Linked DNA regions of Homo sapiens. The protein of the gene in region 1 purifies or fractionates together with the protein of each later gene. This does not show direct contact. Each region holds a gene or a part of one and is shown in the gene's direction. Other genes may lie near its edges.

What was found.
Region 2: the proteins of RPS6KA2 (region 1) and NQO2 fractionate together in Homo sapiens (co-fractionation; one large-scale study listed by BioGRID). This does not show direct contact.
Region 3: the proteins of RPS6KA2 (region 1) and KLHL25 purify together in Homo sapiens (affinity purification with mass spectrometry; one large-scale study listed by BioGRID and IntAct). This does not show direct contact.

The regions. Positions count from the first base shown.
Region 1 is NC_000006.12:166,428,102-166,431,751, reverse strand, and holds part of RPS6KA2 (ribosomal protein S6 kinase alpha-2), read left to right. Parts: intron 1-1,140; coding exon 1,141-1,299; intron 1,300-3,650. UniProt on the Homo sapiens protein: Serine/threonine-protein kinase that acts downstream of ERK (MAPK1/ERK2 and MAPK3/ERK1) signaling and mediates mitogenic and stress-induced activation of transcription factors, regulates translation, and mediates cellular proliferation, survival, and differentiation.
Region 2 is NC_000006.12:3,002,846-3,006,495, forward strand, and holds part of NQO2 (ribosyldihydronicotinamide dehydrogenase [quinone]), read left to right. Parts: intron 1-823; exon of another isoform or gene 824-944; intron 945-1,649; exon of another isoform or gene 1,650-1,806; intron 1,807-3,622; 5' UTR 3,623-3,650. UniProt on the Homo sapiens protein: The enzyme apparently serves as a quinone reductase in connection with conjugation reactions of hydroquinones involved in detoxification pathways as well as in biosynthetic processes such as the vitamin K-dependent gamma-carboxylation of glutamate residues in prothrombin synthesis.
Region 3 is NC_000015.10:85,784,890-85,788,321, reverse strand, and holds part of KLHL25 (kelch-like protein 25), read left to right. Parts: exon of another isoform or gene 1-2,104; intron 2,105-3,432. UniProt on the Homo sapiens protein: Substrate-specific adapter of a BCR (BTB-CUL3-RBX1) E3 ubiquitin ligase complex involved in various processes, such as translation homeostasis and lipid synthesis.

The DNA.
Region 1 (3,650 bases):
CCAGCTACTCCGGAGGCTGAGGCAGGAGAATTGCTTGAACCTGGGAGGTGGAGGTTGCACTGAACCGAGATTACACCATTGCACTCCAGCCTGGGCAACTGAGAGAGACTCCATCTCAAAAAATCGAAACATAAAAAGAATAATCAGAGCATATTGTTTTTATTTAGTTTATGAGATAAAAGCCAGTATGGAGAAAACTATCTTTTTCTATTGCTTCTCTGAAGCAACAGCACGGCTCTGATATGTAACTTCGCCCTGGACTCTGCCTAGCCTCTCTGTGCTCCCAGCGCCTGGCCACTCAGTGCTGTCCATGCGGTAGCAGCACAGACATCATGGGAAACTGGTTAGAAATGCGGAGGGCCAGGCCCCACCTCAGTCTGCAGGACCAGAACATGCATTTTAGCAAGATCCCCAAGATTGGATTGGATGCACGTTACAGTTTGAAAAGCACTGCCTTGAGGCCCTGCTCTTGCAAGGTGGTTTGCCAACATTTGCATTTCTTAACGTCTAAATATCTCCTGGCAGGCCAGGCACTATGGCTCACGCCTGTAATCCCAGCACTTTGGGAGGCTGAGGCAGGCGGATCACTTGAGGCCAGGAGTTTGAGTCCAGCTTGGCCAACATGGTGAAACCCTGTCTCTACTAAAAATACAAAAATTAGCTGGGCATGGTGACGTGCACCTATAATCCCAGCTACTCGGGAGGCTAAGGCAGGAGAATCGCTTGAACCCAGGAGGAGCTGGAGGTTGCAGTGAGCTGAGATGGCGCCACTGCACTTCAGCCTGGGTGACAGAGCGAGACTCCATCTCAAAAAATAATAATAATAAATAAATAACAAATATCTCCTGGCAGAGTCATGAAGCCATTCATCTCAGCTAAGGACACGCCCATCTTGTATGTCCTTACTCAGTCCCTGCTTAGCAGCAGATTATTAAAGCCGTTTTCTTCCTAAAAAGAGCACATATGGTATGACAGGAATGGCCATTTGCTTCTACCCTGCAGAAGCCTTGTTTGCACTCCCATAGGACCCTGTGGTCCCAGCCTCTCCCCTCTGACTTCCCTCTCCTGTCCCCTCTGGAGTAGTTGCTCTTTCACAGCAACCAGCCGTGGTGACGTGTGCGCCCCTTCTCCACTCCGCAGGTCTATGATGATGGCAAGTTTGTGTACCTGGTAATGGAGCTGATGCGTGGTGGGGAGCTCCTGGACCGCATCCTCCGGCAGAGATACTTCTCGGAGCGCGAAGCCAGTGACGTCCTGTGCACCATCACCAAGACCATGGACTACCTCCATTCCCAGGGGGTAGGAGCCATGCCTGGGGCAGCCTTCGGGGAGGAGGGAGCTTCAGGGCAGGAACCAAAACCACAAGGGTTTATGGGTTCAAGAGCTGAGAACGCGGATTGTCCTGGAATTCCTTCCGTGCCACCATCGTCTCTCTTGTGTCTGGAGGCTCAGTGACGGTGCAAGGGAAGAAAAATTCTCTTCCCAGCCGGGTGCAGTGGCTCACACCTGTAATCCCAGCACTTTGAGAGGCCAAGGCGGGCAGATCACGAGGTCAGGAGTTCGCGACCAGCCTAGCCAACATGGTGAAACCCTGTCTCTACTAAAAATAACAACAACAAAAAAAAAATTAGCTGGGCATGATGGCACACACCTGCAATCCTAGCTACTCGGGAGGCTGAGGCAGGAGAATTATTTCAACCCAGGAGGCGGAGGTTGCAGTGAGCTGAGATAGCACCATTGCACTCCAGCCTGCGTGACAGGACGAGACTCCATCTCAAAAAAAAAAAAAGAAAAGAAAAATTCTTTTTTCCCTCTGCCCATCTTAGTTCTTCGGTGGAGGCCCTATAAACAAGACTGGCCAAAGACAGGTTAACAAGAGAAAAACAGAAGTTTATTAACATGTGCATCTCACATACACACGGGAGCACCCAGCCATGAATAACTCCAAGGAGTTGTTAGAACTTGAGCTTATATAGCATTTTAACAAAAGAACAATAATTTTGCTGGATGCAGTGGCTCATACGTGTAATCCCAGCACTTTGGGAGGCTGATGCAGGTGGATCACCTGAGGTCAAGAATTTGAGACCAGCCTGGCCAACATGGCAAAACCCCATCTCTACTGAAAATACAAAAATTAGCCAGGCTTGGTGGCACACACCTGTAATCCCAGCTACTCAGGAGACAGAGGCATGAGAATCGCTTCAACCTGGGAGGCAGAGGTTGCAATGAGCCAAGATCACGCCACTGCACTTCAGCGTGGGCGACAGAGCAAAACTCTGTCTCAAATTTAAAAATTTTTTTTTAATTTTATTATTATTATACTTTAAGTTTTAGGTACATGTGCACAATGTGCAGGTTAGTTACATATGTATACATGTGCCATGCTGGTGTGCTGCACCCATTAACTCGTCATTTAGCATTAGGTATATCTCCTAATGCTATCCCTCCCCCCCTCCCCCCACCCCACAACAGTCCCCAGAGTATGATGTTTCCCTTCCTGTGTCCATGTGTTCTCATTGTTCAATTCCCACGTATGAGTGAGAACATGCAGTGTTTGGTTTTTTGTCCTTGCGACGGTTTACTGAGAATGATGATCTCCAATTTCATCCATGTCCCTACAAAGGACATGAACTCATCATTTTTTATGGCTGCATAGTATTCCATGGTGTACATGTGCCACATTTTCTTAATCCAGTCTATCATTGTTGAACATTTGGGTTGGTTCCAAGTCTTTGCTATTGTGAATAGTGCCACAATAAACATACGTGTGCATGTGTCTTTATAGCAGCATGATTTATAGTCCTTTGGGTATATACCCAGTAATGGGATGGCTGGGTCAAATGGTATTTCTAGTTCTAGATCCCTGAGGAATCGCCACACTGACTTCCACAATGGTTGAACTAGTTTACAGTCCCACCAACAGTGTAAAAGTGTTCCTATTTCTCCACATCCTCTCCAGCACCTGTTGTTTCCTAACTTTTTAATGAAAAGTGGTTTTGATTTGTGGTTTTGATTTGCATTTCTCTGATGGCCAGTGATGGTGAGCATTTTTTCATGTGTTTTTTGGCTGCATAAATGTCTTCTTTTGAGAAGTGTCTGTTCATGTCCTTCGCCCACTTTTTGATGGGGTTGTTTTTTTTTTTCTTGTAAATTTGTTTGAGTTCATTGTAGATTCTGGATATTAGCCCTTTGTCAGATGAGTAGGTTGCGAAAATTTTCTCCCATTTTGTAGGTTGCCTGTTCACTCTGATGGTAGTTTCTTTTGCTGTGCAGAAGCTCTTTAGTTTAATTAGATCCCATTTGTCAATTTTGGCTTTTGTTGCCATTGCTTTTGGTGTTTTAGACATGAAGTCCTTGCCCATGCCTATGTCCTGAATGGTAATGCCTAGGTTTTCTTCTAGGGTTTTTATGGTTTTAGGTCTAACATTTAAGTCTTTAATCCATCTTGAATTAATTTTTGTATAAGGTGTAAGGAAGGGATCCAGTTTCAGCTTTCTACATATGGCTAGCCAGTTTTCCCAGCACCATTTATTAAATAGGGAACCCTTTCCCCATTGCTTGTTTTTCTCAGGTTTGTCAAAGATCAGATAGTTGTAGATAAGCGGCGTTATTTCTGAGGGCTCTGTTCTGTTCCATTGATCTATATCTCT
Region 2 (3,650 bases), about 160 Mb from region 1:
TGGAGTGGAGCAATCCTCTAATCTCAGCCCCCTGAGTAGCTGGGATTACAGGCATGCACCACCACACCTGGCTAATTTTTAAAAATCTTTGGTAGAGATGGGATCTCACTATGTTGCCCGGGCTGGTCTCAAATTCCTAGGCTCAAGTGATCTCCTGCCTCAGCCTCTCAAAGTGCTGGGCCTTCTGCTTCCCTGGGCTTTGCCAGGCCTCCCTATGCATTGTGATAGCCAAAGTTTGCTTTCTACAAAGTCACCTCCAGGCAGTGACTGTCCACCAGGGCACTGTAGAGCCTCCCAGCTAATGATGAAGTCACTCACTCTCCTCTCTTTTTCCTTTAAGATAATCCCTTTCCAGACCCGCCATTTTGGCTCACCCTGTAAGTTACAGCCCCACTTCTCACTGCCAAGTGTGGGTGTCACTGCTGGCTCAGGGAGCATGGATCCTGTAAACTTGCCTCATCGGGAGGCTTTGAGGAGTGACCCCCAGGAACTAGACAAGTAACTTGTTCTTCACAATCACTGCCCTCCCAAGAACATCCAGGATTTCAGCCTCAGTGCTAAGACAACCATGTCTCTCCCTGACACATGCTCGCTGCTGAGAATTCTAGGAAAAGCAGAGGGCTGTGCAGGCGCCCCTGCCCCTAGGCTAGGAGAGCTGGCAAATGCCTGGAGACCCAAAGGCCTCATCCTCAGGGCGGCCAACTCTTCTGTTTTAGTGATATACAGACTATCTTTTATTGTGATTTATAGTGCAACTTACCGGTTCAAACAATACTACCTGTATTCATAAACTTTCTTTTTCCTTTCCTTCCTCACTGCCCAGCTTTAGGTTCATTCTTGTAAGTGTTGCTGGTGTCAGAATAGGAACCTCCCTGCGCTTTGAAGGGATGAATGTGACCTCTCCCACATTCTCCGGTGCTGTGATGTACCTTAAACACAGCAAGGTACTTGGACACAAAGCCTGTGCCTGGAGCACTTTCAGACAGACAGTGCATGGCCCTCGCTACAGACTCAGTGCCATTGTAGATGTTTCTGCATGGAAAATACATAAACACAAATATCTGCAGTTGCCAATCCACCACCATCTTGCAGCCCCAAGAGAGCCCCGGGAATCCAGGTTCCTTTGGTATTTCTGCTCCCTGCCCTTGGTGCATAGCCTCCATCCCCAGGACGACAAGAAGGCTGACTGAGCCCTAACATCATCCCACAGTCCAGCTGGGAAGAGAGCCAGCGACAAAGCCAGAGGGAGCTAGCTCCCACACCTCCCAGCCCCAGCTGAGTTCGCTTCTTGAGGGTATTTCTTGGAAGCCCCGCCTGTGACTTCTGCTGACACCTCACTGGCCATCTCAACTGCAAGGCAGCCTAGGAAATGTAGTGCTTACCTGTACACGTGGATTCCTGGAATCAATTCAGGGTCTGTCCTTGGGGAACCAGAGTGGGGATATTCAGTCACTAAAGATGCAGGTTCCCAGCTGTCCAGTGAAGTCAAGCGAATGGGGAAGGATTTGAAGTCACCTTTGGGTGTTTGGAGTGATCAGAGCTGTCTGCCCTCTTGGGGAGTGACAGTGCCCCACTCTGTTAAGTCCCATGCCTGCCCCCAACTCAGCTTCAGCCACAATGATGTAGCCTCTTTTCCTTTCCATCCACAGGGCACCTGGCCTGGGTGGAGCCCACTCCTCAGCACCCACCTCACTTCTTGCAGTATTCTGCAGACCCCAGCCCTGTGCCTGTGCTCCTGGACAGCTGGAGATAAGGAGTGGGCCCTGGAAGATGCTCATTCAGGCCCTGCTCAAGATTCCAGTCCTGGTGGGGATAAGCACCACTTTTGTGTGTCTCTGTGCTTTTTGTTTTGCTGTAAAGACACACTGATAGGTTCACGTTGTCGTTTGGACACAACATGCGCGATGCGTGTCTTCACACTAAGCCCTAGTCACACTCTCTGCATTGTTTTTTTATCCCATTTTTTCCTACTGTGGTACAGAACATCTCACATAAAATTGACCATTTTAACCACTTTTTTTGTTTGTTTGTTTTTTGTGTTTTTGGACAGAGTCTCGCTCTGTCTCAGCCTCCCGAGTAGCTGGGATTACAGGTGCACACCACCACGCCCGGCTAATTTTTGTATTTTTAGTAGAGACGGAGTTTCGCCATGTTGGCCAGGCTGGTCTCGGACTCCTGACCTCAGGTAATCCACCTGCCTCAGCCTCCCAAAGTGCTGGGATTACAGGTGTGAGCCACGGTGCCTGACCTCATTTTAGCCACTTTTAAGGGTAGAATTTTCTGGCTGTTTTCATTCATGTACTGATAGACACTTGGGTTGCTTCCATGTTTTAGCTGTTGTGGAAAATGCTGCTTTGAACATGGGTGGGCAAGTGGTTTTCAAGACCCTGCTTTCAGTTTTTTGGGTTCAGAGTAACGAATGGAATTGCTGAGTCATATGTTAATTCTCATTTTTCTAATTGTAATTTTTGGGGGCACAGCACCTCTCCAGCAGCGGCAGCACTCGACCTTTCCCCAGCGGTGCACGGGGTTCCAACTTCTCCGCATCCTCACCTACGTGTGTTTTGTTTTTTGGTAGTAGTAGCCATTCTAATGCGTGTGATATGGGATCTCATTGTGGTTTTGATTTGCATTTCCCTAATGATTAGTGATGCTAAGCATCTTTTCATGGCTTACTGACCATTCATACATCTTTGGAGAAAAGCCTACACAAGCCTTCTGCCCATTTTTGCATTGAGTTGTTTGCTTTGTTGTTGTTAAGTTTTATCTGAGCTGTTTTTTTATGGTAGGGAGAGTGGGTTTGTTGGAGTCTCCTTGTATCTCCCAGAAGGAAGCCAGAATTTCAGAGATGGCCAGGAGGGGGTGAGGCCAAAGGCTCCCCTGGGGAGAACTCACGTTTTTCCAGAGCCCCATTGTGTGCCAGCCACCGCACATAGCAACTGTCTCTCTCTCACTCTTCTGGGCCATGCTGTGACTTTGTTGATGAGGAGGTTGAGGCACAGAGGGGTGGAGGGATGTGCTGCAGGGCCCACAGCTACAATGGGCAGAGCTGGAAATTGCACCAAGTCTGTCTGATGCGGGGGTCTCCTCTGCTCCTCTGGCCTCCGCTGCATCCCTGGAGAATCTCTGAGACTTCTGGTTAGAGCCTGGGTCTAAGCCAACTCCCATTATTTTCAAGTGAGGGGAAGGGCCGACAACTGCCAGTGCTGGCCCACCAGAGTCTGGCACCAGCCGAGGAGTGCACGCACCCATTGGTGGTGTGGCGGTTCACTGATCCCCCAGCCTTCTGCTCGATCTACGGGGAAAACTGGGGAAGGCAGGAAGGCCAAGGAGGCTCAACTCCTGCTTCCTACCGTGGCTCATTTCCTGGGTCCTTTGCTGTATGACTGTCTGGATGGAAGGTTCAGAGTCCTCTCAAAAAAGGAAAAAAGTATGGGTTTTGACATCCTGCGTGGCTTGTCCTCTGAGGCCTAAATCTCCAGAAGATTCCTGGCCTCTCTTGAGAGGTCTTTCTCTGATGTGTTTGCGTGTCTGTCAGGAAGCAGCAGTGATGCCTAGATGTGGTACATTCGACCTCACCTATGCCTCTCCCCACCCCCTCTGGGTTCGTTTTGTCTTCCAGATTGCTGGACTCGCTGAAGAGAGACTAC
Region 3 (3,432 bases), on another chromosome or scaffold:
TCTCTGGGGTGGTGACATTTGAGCCAGCCGTGGGAGGATCAGAGAAAGGCCTGCCAGGTGGGTAGCACAGCTCGTGCAAAGGCTGGGCCTGCGTGGGCTGCGGACAGAGACATCATGAGGCACAGAGAGGTGCCAGACCCTGACATTCTGCAGTCTTCTGGTGCAGGGAGAGACTGAGGATAACATTGTTCTCTTTCATTTTATTGTTTTTCTCTGATTTAAATAATATATCAATGGATTTCCTTTTTTTTTTTTTTTTTTTTTTGAGATCTAGTTTCCCTCTCATTGCCCAGGCCGCAGTGCGGTGGCGCGATCTCAGCTCACCTCCGCTTCCCGGGTTCAAGCAATTCTCCTGCCTCAGCCTCCCAAGTAGCTGGGATTACAGGCGCAAGCCACCACGCCCAGCTAGGATTTCCTTTATAAATGAAAAATATAGGAAAAGATGGAGCACAGTGTGAGGGTCCATCCCCTCCTTTGTATCTGTCCACAGATGGGTGCATACCCTTCTAGTCCTCCGTTGTATGTGCAGATTTTGTGTTTACATAATTTGAATCATACTCAATACTCTACAACTTATACCACTTAGTGTGTGGTGGAGCTCTTTTTCACAGCGTCGTCATATTCCACACTGCAGCCAAACCATCATTTCCTCTCATTGTGTCCTAAGGAGAGACTTTAGGTAATGCCTCATTTTCCCTGTATGATCAATGAAATCTTGTGTGTCCTTCATCATGCATCTTTCTGAGCAAGTGTGATTATTTTAAATTTTCATTGTCAAAGCCAAATGCCCTTTGCAAAGATTTACCCAGTTTACTCTTTCACTAATAATAGTGCCTGAATGCCCATTTCTCTACAGACTCACCTAATTTTTTTTTGAGACTGAGTTTCGCTCTTGTCACCCAGGCTGGAGTGCAATGGCATGATCTCAGGTTACAGCAACCTCTGCCTCCCAGGTTCAAGCGATTCTCCTGCCTCAGCCTCCCAAGTAGCTGGGATTACAGGCAAGCGCCACCACGCCCAGCTAATTTTGTATTTTTAGTAGAGACTGGGTTTCTCCATGTTGGCCAGGCTGGTCTCAAACTCCTGACCTCAGGTGATCCACCTGCCTCGGCCTCCCAAAGTTCTGGGATTACAGGCGTGAGCCACTGCGCCCAGCCCCCAAATTTTTGATGTTATCCACATTTTTAGTTTTAGCTAATGTGATGGGGTGGGGGGGCGGGTGGAATCTCATTGTTCCATTAAAAAAAATGTTTATTCAGGCTTTGTCCTTTGATTCTAGTCCACTTTTGTCTTTCCAGAAGATCAAAGTTTATTGAGTGCTGGTTCTGCCTCTTATTGGTCTCCTGACCTCAGCTGGGTACTCATCTGTGAAATGAAGCCCTTTAATCCCTGCCCGCCCCTGCCCCCCACTAGGCTGCTGTATTTTTTGCATGGGAAAACATTCCTGAAAGTTCATTTTATGCTGAAAAGCTCTGCAAACATGAAGAGGCATGGTTTTTACTAGCGAAATGGAAATATCTGGAACATTTGAGTGAATTCAGGTGTTTCTAAACAGCCAGCATATCCAGGGGAGGAGCTGGGGTGACTTTGCCCTTGTGCAGTGGAGCTGGCCTTAGGTGGGAGGTGTCTGCCTATTGTCCCAGAGATGCACGGGGCCTTACCTGGCTGAGAGCCATCTGGCTGGGCTTGAGAGCTCTTCTCAGAGGGCTGGCTTAGTCAATGATCTGTCACCTGTCTGCAGGAATAAAGAAATGAGCCAGGAGGACAGAGAGAGTTCCGTAGCTGGTCCAGAGAAAGGCCCAGAAAGGGGCAGTGGCCACCACAGACTAAACCCTGTTTACTTGCCTGTGTGGTCCCAGGAGGCATCGGGCCCCATGATAGAGGAGCCAGGGAACTGCTGACCATGGCCTGGGCCCCAGAGGAATTCATTACTGCTGGGTACCTGGGGACGTTTTGGCCAGGCTCTCCCCACCCTTCAGGAAGCAACATCCAGGTTTGGCCATGACTCCCCTGCTGCCCTGGAGATGACTCAGAACCAAGCTTCAGAGGAGGCTCCTGTGATCCCAGCCAGCCTGACCTACTTGGAACAATCTCAGGGACAGATGTAGGTAGGGGGAAGGGAGAGGGTAACCAAGGGGACAATGGGACCCTCAAAGGGCTTTGGTAGGGAGGGCTTCTGCCTTTATACCTCTGCAGCTAGTGAGCAGGAGAAGGGAAAGGGGAGGGGCCTCGCTGAAAGCAGTTTTTGCGTTTATTAGACACCTCCTGATTCTGAGAGTTGGGTGTTTCATTAAGAGAGTAAGGGAAGCATCTCACTCTAGAGCTGGTTTTGCATGGGTCCTCCTGGGGCGGGGGGGTGGGTCGGCTGCCTTTGCTGGGCTCCTGTCCCACTGCCATTGTGAGCGCAGCTTGAAGGCATTTCGCTGAGTTGGAGTGAGGTCGAATCACCAGGTTTCTTTTCAGGCATCAACTGGTATATCTGTGTTGCAGGAAGTTGCAGTTGCTATTTTTACCACTCCAACCAGGACTTTTTACTGGGAGGTACAATTACAAGCAAAATGCCAGGGTTTGGCTGGTTAGCTAAGCCGTGGGAGGCTGCTGCGGGCTGAGGCAGGGGCCACTGCACATGGTCCTTTGCTGTGTTGTACAAAGCAAGACACGTTTGCATGTGGACACACACCTACCCTGGTTGCTGGGTGGCTTTGTCTGAACCACTTCCTGTGCCTGGAGTTTCCTCTAGGTGGAAAAAAAAAAAAAGGACTTTGCTGGGTTTTGCTCAGATAATTGTACCTGGCTGCCAGGGCAGCTCCAAAGCTGTAAGCAATGTAGTTCTGACTGCCCAGAAGGTTGAAACTTTGTTAAATGAAATTGAGAACCTGCTCTATACTACCCACTCTGCTAAGGACCAGGATATAGGAATACATCAGTTGGCCGGGCGTGGTGGCTCATGCCTGTAATCCCAGCACTTTGGGAGGCTGAGGCAGGCAGATCACGAGGTCAGGAGATCGAGACCATCCTGGCTAACATTGTGAAACCTCGTCTCTACTAAAAATACAAAACATTAGCCGGACGTCGTGGTGGGCGCCTGTAGTTCCAGCTACTCAGGAGGCTGAGGCAGGAGAATGGTGTGAACCCGGGAGGCGGAGCTGGCAGTGAGCCGAGATCACACCACTGCACTCCAACCTGGGTGACAGAGAGAGACACTGTCTCAGAAAAAAAAAAAAAAAGAAAAAAGAAATACATCAGTCTCTGCTCTCTAGCATCACATGTCCAGGAATTGAAAATGCAGAAAGCGTGAGTTGTCTTCTGCTCCTTTTGGATAATTACCTGGTGTGTTTTTAATGTCTATACATTATGACTAGAGGCCAGGTGGGGCTTATATTGGTTTCTGTTACAGCATAACACATCATCACAGGCTTAGTGGCTTAATCA